2 linked regions of the Homo sapiens genome follow. The protein of the gene in region 1 purifies or fractionates together with the protein of each later gene. This does not show direct contact. Each region holds a gene or a part of one and is shown on either strand. Other genes may lie near its edges.

The links.
Region 2: the proteins of TDG (region 1) and RAD23B purify together in Homo sapiens (affinity purification with western blotting; one study listed by BioGRID). This does not show direct contact.

Annotation. Positions count from the first base shown.
Region 1 is NC_000012.12:103,982,872-103,986,122, forward strand, and holds part of TDG (G/T mismatch-specific thymine DNA glycosylase), read left to right. Parts: coding exon 1-63; intron 64-264; coding exon 265-347; intron 348-423; coding exon 424-518; intron 519-1,877; coding exon 1,878-2,049; intron 2,050-2,731; coding exon 2,732-2,857; intron 2,858-3,251. UniProt on the Homo sapiens protein: DNA glycosylase that plays a key role in active DNA demethylation: specifically recognizes and binds 5-formylcytosine (5fC) and 5-carboxylcytosine (5caC) in the context of CpG sites and mediates their excision through base-excision repair (BER) to install an unmethylated cytosine.
Region 2 is NC_000009.12:107,323,738-107,328,278, forward strand, and holds part of RAD23B (UV excision repair protein RAD23 homolog B), read left to right. Parts: intron 1-152; coding exon 153-280; intron 281-1,096; coding exon 1,097-1,267; intron 1,268-4,541. UniProt on the Homo sapiens protein: Multiubiquitin chain receptor involved in modulation of proteasomal degradation. Binds to polyubiquitin chains.

The sequences.
Region 1 (3,251 bases):
GTATGGTATTGGATTTACCAACATGGTGGAAAGGACCACGCCCGGCAGCAAAGATCTCTCCAGGTAAGTACACAGCATTTGCTTTTATGGGTTGGAACCTTGAGTATGCTGGTGCCCCAAATATTCTAGGAACATCATATGTATCTAGTTCAAGCTGAGCTCAACAAATGTACAATATGCTCTTTCATTGAAAGCTGTCTGAATTTAGCATATTATAAATATTGTCATATTTATATTTTTGACTACTTTTTAATTCAATTTTAGTAAAGAATTTCGTGAAGGAGGACGTATTCTAGTACAGAAATTACAGAAATATCAGCCACGAATAGCAGTGTTTAATGGAAAATGTAAGATTTACTTTTAAATTTTTTTTTTCTTTGCTAACATTATGGGCAATGTAAATATGTTTGTATTTCATTTTAGGTATTTATGAAATTTTTAGTAAAGAAGTTTTTGGAGTAAAGGTTAAGAACTTGGAATTTGGGCTTCAGCCCCATAAGATTCCAGACACAGAAACTGTAAGTCCCTAAAATTGAATTTGTAAATCAGCTAAATGTGAATTTTTTTCTAGATAATTTCCTTATTTGTCCTATCCATTGTGATTTATACCATGCAAAACAATTACACTGTATTTTGTTGAATAATACCTATACATCAGCTTTAACTAATAGTTGTAAATTAATTCAAATACTATTAGGGTTTATTAGAAAGAAAAACATTTGTCAGCTAAATGTCTTGATGTTGTTATTCAGTGAAAATATTGAGAGGAACTGGCTCATATACTACATTCAGAATACATTTAATGGCATGTAGTTGTCAAATTCAAATGGTTTAGCCCTCGTACTGTTGTGAAACAAACATGGAAACACAGACATGATCCTGATTAGGAAAACCAGTTGCCCCATTTATATATCTTAGCTCAACTTCATTTTAGAGCCATATAAATAATACAACCCAGACAAGCCTCCAGCCAACCTAACTGGCATTCAATACTGTTGTCTTATACACAAAGTCATCATGAAATAACAGTGTTTTTCAAATTGTCCTCTCTACAGAGCTTCTGCAGGCATTTGGTTCCAATTTTGCTTCTTAGTTTTAGGTTTTATTTACAACTTTTAAAGAACAACACAGTGCACAGATTTACATGTTGTATATACAACATCTTAACTGATGGAGAAGCTAATTTGCTGCCAGGTTTTTGTGGAAACCTAAAAATGTTTCTGCCACCTAAATATATTTAAATTTCTCCTTTAAAATTGTTTTTGTTCATAATTTCTTATAAATATGCAATTGATGAGTTTTATTATAGCATTGGTTTTTGCTTAAATAAAGGCCCACCTTTGTCTGCTTGGTTAAAATGGTACAAATTCACTACCTGTAGTGAATTGTAGAGAAATTCCTGTAGAGTACTGTGTCATTCTCTGTTACATGCCATTTGGAGGCCGGGCGTGGTGGCTCATGCCTATAATCCCAGCACTTTGGGAGGCCGAGGCAGGCGGATCACCTGAGGTTAGGAGTTCGAGACCAGCCTGGCCAACATGGTGAAACCCCATCTCCACTAAAAAATACAAAAATTAGCCAGGCATGGTGGCATGCGCTGTAATCCCAGCTACGTAGGAGGCTGAGGCAGAAGAATCGCTTGAACCCAGGAGGCAGCTCATTAGGCGGAGGCTCATTATTTTTCACTTCCTGACTTGGTAATAAGTCAGTATTACAAATTCAACCTTAAAAGCAACTACTTTTATTGATTTTTACATATATTTATATGTAGTTAAGTATCAAGTTATTAACCCAAATAAAGACAAATATTCTAATCTCAATGAGTGAATTCAATAGAATTATAAGATTTCTGAAATTATAAAATGTTGTGATTCTAGCTCTGCTATGTTATGCCATCATCCAGTGCAAGATGTGCTCAGTTTCCTCGAGCCCAAGACAAAGTTCATTACTACATAAAACTGAAGGACTTAAGAGATCAGTTGAAAGGCATTGAACGAAATATGGACGTTCAAGAGGTGCAATATACATTTGACCTACAGCTTGCCCAAGGTATGTTACTGTCCTCATTCCTTTTATTCATTTTGTGTGTGTATATATACACATATATACTTACATATATATACACATATACATATATACATATACACATATACATATGTGTGCACATATATGCACACGTGTATATATACATGTGTATATATACATATATACACATAAGTATGTATGTCTATATACATATATGTGTGTATACACTTGTGTGCGTATACATATGTGTGTGTCTATATATAGACACATACACACACACACACACACACACACACACACACACACACACACATTACAGAAAGTATCTTATGGATTTAAAAGCAGGAAAAAAGAAAACAATTATATTCGCAGCCAGAGTGCTCTGATAATGAATATTAGTCACTGTTAAAATCTCCTTTTACCAAGGTCTTCCCTCTACTCTGGCACTTCTGCAGATAATTCACCTGCAGAGTGCCAGAGCAGAGGGATGTAAGAAATATTGTACCCTACGTAAAGTTGAATGTAAGCGGTTTTTACAGTTCTTATGTGTTTATTTAGTACATGCTATAAGTTTAAAAGATTAATAGAGATGTATCTCAGTGTATATGAATATTCAAGAAAAAGAATTGTTCATGATTTCTGAATAAAGCTACTTTTAAAATTGTTGTACAAAATCAGATTTAAATCCTTTTTACCTTCCTCACAGAGGATGCAAAGAAGATGGCTGTTAAGGAAGAAAAATATGATCCAGGTTATGAGGCAGCATATGGTGGTGCTTACGGAGAAAATCCATGCAGCAGTGAACCTTGTGGCTTCTCTTCAAATGGGCTAAGTATGGTTCCCTCCACATGTGTATTCCTTTCAAAGACGGTTTGGTCAGGATTGGGGGGAAAATTTTAATAGAAGGAGAGTAAATTATTGAAGAATGGGAATGATAATATGAAATTTTATTTAGTGACTAATAGTGAAAAATTGATGGTTATTTCACGTTGAATTACACAGACTTTTACAGTACATTTTCTTTTTTGTTTGTTTGTTTTTGAGACAGATTCTCGCTGTGTCACCCAGGCTAGAGTGCAGTGGCTCGATCTTGGCTCACTGCAAGCTCCCCCTCCTGGGTTCACACCATTCTCCTGCCTCAGCCTCCCGAGTAGCTGGGACTACAGGCATCCGCCACGATGCCTGGCTAATTTTTTTTGTATTTTTAATAGAGACAGGGTTTCACC
Region 2 (4,541 bases), on another chromosome or scaffold:
GGAAGATTTCATCATTATTTACTTCATTTTATTACATCTGAGAACTCAAATCATTTTTTCTTTGATAGTGTTTGCTGTCTAAATGTATTATTTAACCACTGTTTGTGTATGTATTTACTGCTTTTGTTTAGAAATGTTTATGTGTATTTTAGGACATCCCCTTGAATTTTTACGGAATCAGCCTCAGTTTCAACAGATGAGACAAATTATTCAGCAGAATCCTTCCTTGCTTCCAGCGTTACTACAGCAGATAGGTCGAGAGAATCCTCAATTACTTCAGGTGACTAATCAGTGTCAGTTTCACAAGTGATTTAGAGTGTGTCACAATTTGAAAAAGTCCATGAACGGTCCTTCCCCTCCTCAAATACAACTCTGTATTTGAGAATGTGAATGTTTTCTTCCAAGCTACACTTAGATATTGTAATCTAGATAGGTGTACTAAAAAAACAGTTGGGATATGGAGGTTGGGTTAAATTAAGTTGACCAAATAGTAGTAAGTTTGGGAAACATTTTATATTTCCTTTTTGGAGATTCCCACTACACATTAATATGTTAAAGAATTTGGGAAGCTGTTTAACAGAGAAACTGCCTAACTTTAAATCACTTTTCACAAGCTTATTACTCAGTTCCTTTTTCTTAGGAACTTTTAAGCAACAGGAACAACTTACTCTTAGAAAAAATAGCTGTGGGGCTTCTTTAGTGATCAGATCACCAAGTATTTGAATTTTATACAGCATTTTAATGCCCACTAGTGTGGAAGGTAAAAAATACATGCAAGTATTAAGAATAAGTTCTATTCTTATAGTCCCACAGTAGTTTTTTTTGTTTGTTTTTTGTTTGTTTTGTTTTTTTAAGCACAGGAGGCTCAGAGCACTTAAGAATTTGAATTTCTTCACTGTTTACTTTGCCCAAAAGTACTGAATTTCTTTACTATTGTATAAGAAATCACATCCTTCCAAAGACTGAATAATCCAGAATCACTAAATTACGTTTGCAAAAGTGTAGCCTTTTCTCTTAGTAATATTTAGAATTTCTCTGTTCCTGCAGATACTTAATATCAGTGTATTATTTTTCTCTGTCCTTCATATCACCACAGCAAATTAGCCAACACCAGGAGCATTTTATTCAGATGTTAAATGAACCAGTTCAAGAAGCTGGTGGTCAAGGAGGAGGAGGTGGAGGTGGCAGTGGAGGAATTGCAGAAGCTGGAAGTGGTCATATGAACTACATTCAAGTAACACCTCAGGAAAAAGAAGCTATAGAAAGGGTGAGTTTAAGTAAAACTTTAAAAAAATTAGTTCTTGGCTGGGCTCATGCCTGTAATTCCAGCACTTTGGGAGGCCAAGGCAGGTGGATCACCTGAGGTCAGGAGTTCAAGACCAGCCTGGCCAACGTGGTGAAACCCCATCTCTACTAAAAATACAAAAATTAGCTGGCGTGGTGGCACATACCTGTAATCTCAGCTACTTGGGAGGCTGAGGCAGGAGAATTGCTTGGACCTGGGAGGTGGAGGTTGCTGTGAGCCGAGATTGTGCCACTGCACTCCAGCCTGGGCAACAGAGTGAGACTCTGTCTCAAAAAAAAAAAAAAAAAAAAAAAAAAAATTCCTTAGTCACACTAGCCCCATTTCAAATGCTCAGAAGTCACATATTAATAATAAGGTTTTTCTATAATTTCTTTCAATAGTGTCCTGTAGTTTTCAGTGTAGAAGTTGTGTAATACTTTTGTTAAAATTATTTCGAAGTATTTTTATTCTTTTTGATGCTGTTATAAATGGATTTTTCTCTTAATTTCATTTTCAGACTGTTCATTGCTAACTATATAAAAATACAATTTAATTGTGTATATTGATCTTTTATCATAAAACCTTCTTGAACTGTTATTTATTCATTAAGTAGTTTGTGCATGTGTTCATTAGGATTTTCCATATACAAGGTCATGTCATCTGCACATGGAGACAGTTTTACTTCTTTTCCAATATGGATACCTTTTATTTCTTTGTCTTATTTAACTGCCCTATCTGGAGCCTCCAGTATATTATTAGACTAGCAAGAACCAACAACATCCTTGTCTGGTTCTTGATCTTAAGGGAAAGCATTCAGTCTTTCATCACTAAGTATGATATTATCTATGGGTTTTTTGTGGATGCCCTTTATCAGATTGAAGAAATTCTCTTCTGTTACTAGTTTGTTCATCACGAAAAGGTGTTGGATTTTGTCAAATTTTTTTTCTTTCTTTATTAAGATGATCATGTGATTTTTGTCCTTTAGTATGCTTTATTACATTGATTGATTTTGTATGTTGAACCAACCTTGCATTTCTGAGATAAATTTTACTGGTTACAGCATATGATCTTTTTTATATGTTGCTGGATTTAGCCTGCTTGTATTTTGTTGAGGATTTTTGCATCTGTTCATAAGTCATATTGGTCTGTAGTTTTTTTGTGATGTTTTTGTCTGAATTTGGTGTCTGGGTAATACTGGCCTCTTAGGGTGAGTTGGGAATTATTCTCTCCTGTTGTCTGGAAGTATTTATTAAGAATTGGTGTGGGCTAACACGGTGAAACCCCGTCTCTACTAAAAATACAAAAAAAATTAGCCAGGCGTGATGGTGGGCGCCTGTAGTCCCAGCTACTCGGGAGACTGAGGCAGGAGAATGGCGTGAACCCGGGAGGCGGAGCTTGCAGTGAGCCGAGATTGCGCCACTGCACTCCCGCCTGGGCCACAGAGCGAGACTCTGTCTCAAAAAAAAAAAAAAAAAAGAATTGGTGTGAATTTTTTGAATAGTTGATAGAATTCACCAGTAGTCTGGTCCTGGGCTTTTTTTGGGGGGAAGTTTTGTGATTATTGATTCAGTCTCTTGTTACTTGTCTATTCAACTTTTGTATTTCTTTTTTTTTTTTTTTTTTTTTTTTGAGACAGAGTCTCGCTCTGTTGCCCAGGCTGGATTGCAGTGGCGTGATCTCCGCTCATTGCAAGCTCCACCTCCTGGGTTCACACCATTCTCCTGCCTCAGCCTCCCGAGTAGCTGGGACCACAGGCACCCGCCACCATGCCCGGCTAATTTTGTTTTGTATTTTTTTAGTAGAGACGGGGTTTCAACATGTTAGCCAGGGATGGTCTCGATCTCATGACTTCGTGATCCACCCGCCTCGGCCTCCTAAAGTGCTGGGATTACAGGCGTGAGCCACTGCACCCGGCCAACTTTTCTATTTCTTTTAGAGTCAGTTTTGGTGGTTTTTGACTTGGAATTTGTCTATTTTATCTAAGCTGTCTAATTTGTTGGCGTGCAATTGTACATATTTCCTTATAATCATTTTATTTCCTCTTTTGATAAAGTAATAATGTTCCTGCATTTATTCCTGATTTCAGTCATTTGAGTCCTAAGATATTTTTGTTTTTTCCCTTCAGTTTAGCTAAAGGTTTTAATTTTGTTCATTTTGTGGTGGTTGTTGTTAATGACAAAAATAACTTTGGGTTTTGTTGATTCTCCCTATTGTTTTTCTAGTCTTTTGTTTTGTTTTGTTTTAAGTCTCTCTAATGTTTATTTCCCTCTTGCTTGCTTCTAGTTTGTTCTTCCTTTTTTAGGTTAGGTTTAGTTTAGTTCTTTGTTTAGTTTTAGTTTAAGATTAAATTATTATCTATCTTTGTTAGCATAGATGTTTATAGCTATAATATTCCTTCTGCGTTTATGCTATAGTAGCATCCCATAAGTTTTAGTATGTTGTATTTTTGCTTTCTTTCATCTCAAAATGTTTTTTAATTTCCCATTTGGTTTCTAATTTAATTCATTCGTTATTTAGGATTGTGTTAATTTCCACAAGTTTATGAATTTCCCACATTTTCTCCTTTCGATTTCTAAATTCATTCCATTATAATCAGAGAATATACTTTCAATACTTTTCAACTTATTGAGGTTCGTTTTGTGGCCTAACATGGTATTTCTGAAGAATGTTCTATGTATACTGAAGAAGAATATAGTGTAGTTCTTATTAAGTGGTCTATAAATATCTGATAGATCTAGTTTGTAGTCAAGTCTTCTTCCTTAGCTGTTTTATCTATTATTGAAGGTGGAGCTGTAGTTGTCTCTATTATTGTTAATTGCCAATTTCTACCTTTAATTCTCAGTTTTTATTTTATGTATTTTGTGGCTCTGTTATATATAATTGTTGTGTCTTCCTGAACCCTTTTTATCATAAAATGCCTTTTGTCTATAGTAACAATTTTTATCTTAAATCTGTTTCCTCTGATATAGCCATTCTAGCTCTTTTTTGGTTACCATTTGCATAGTATATACCTTTTTCTATCATTTTACTTTCAACCTACTTGTGTCTTTGAATCTAAATTGTGTGTTTTGTAGAAGCAGGCAGTTGGATTGTACCCTTTACTTCACCTATCCTAGCTTTAATCTGGATAAAACCCAGATAACAAACTGATTTTTTAGTTTCTTCTGCTTTCATAGATGAATAGTTATTCGTGATGAATTGGGATTTTTGCCCAAATTTTAAGGGTTATTTCCAAATATAATCTGACACAGCAGTC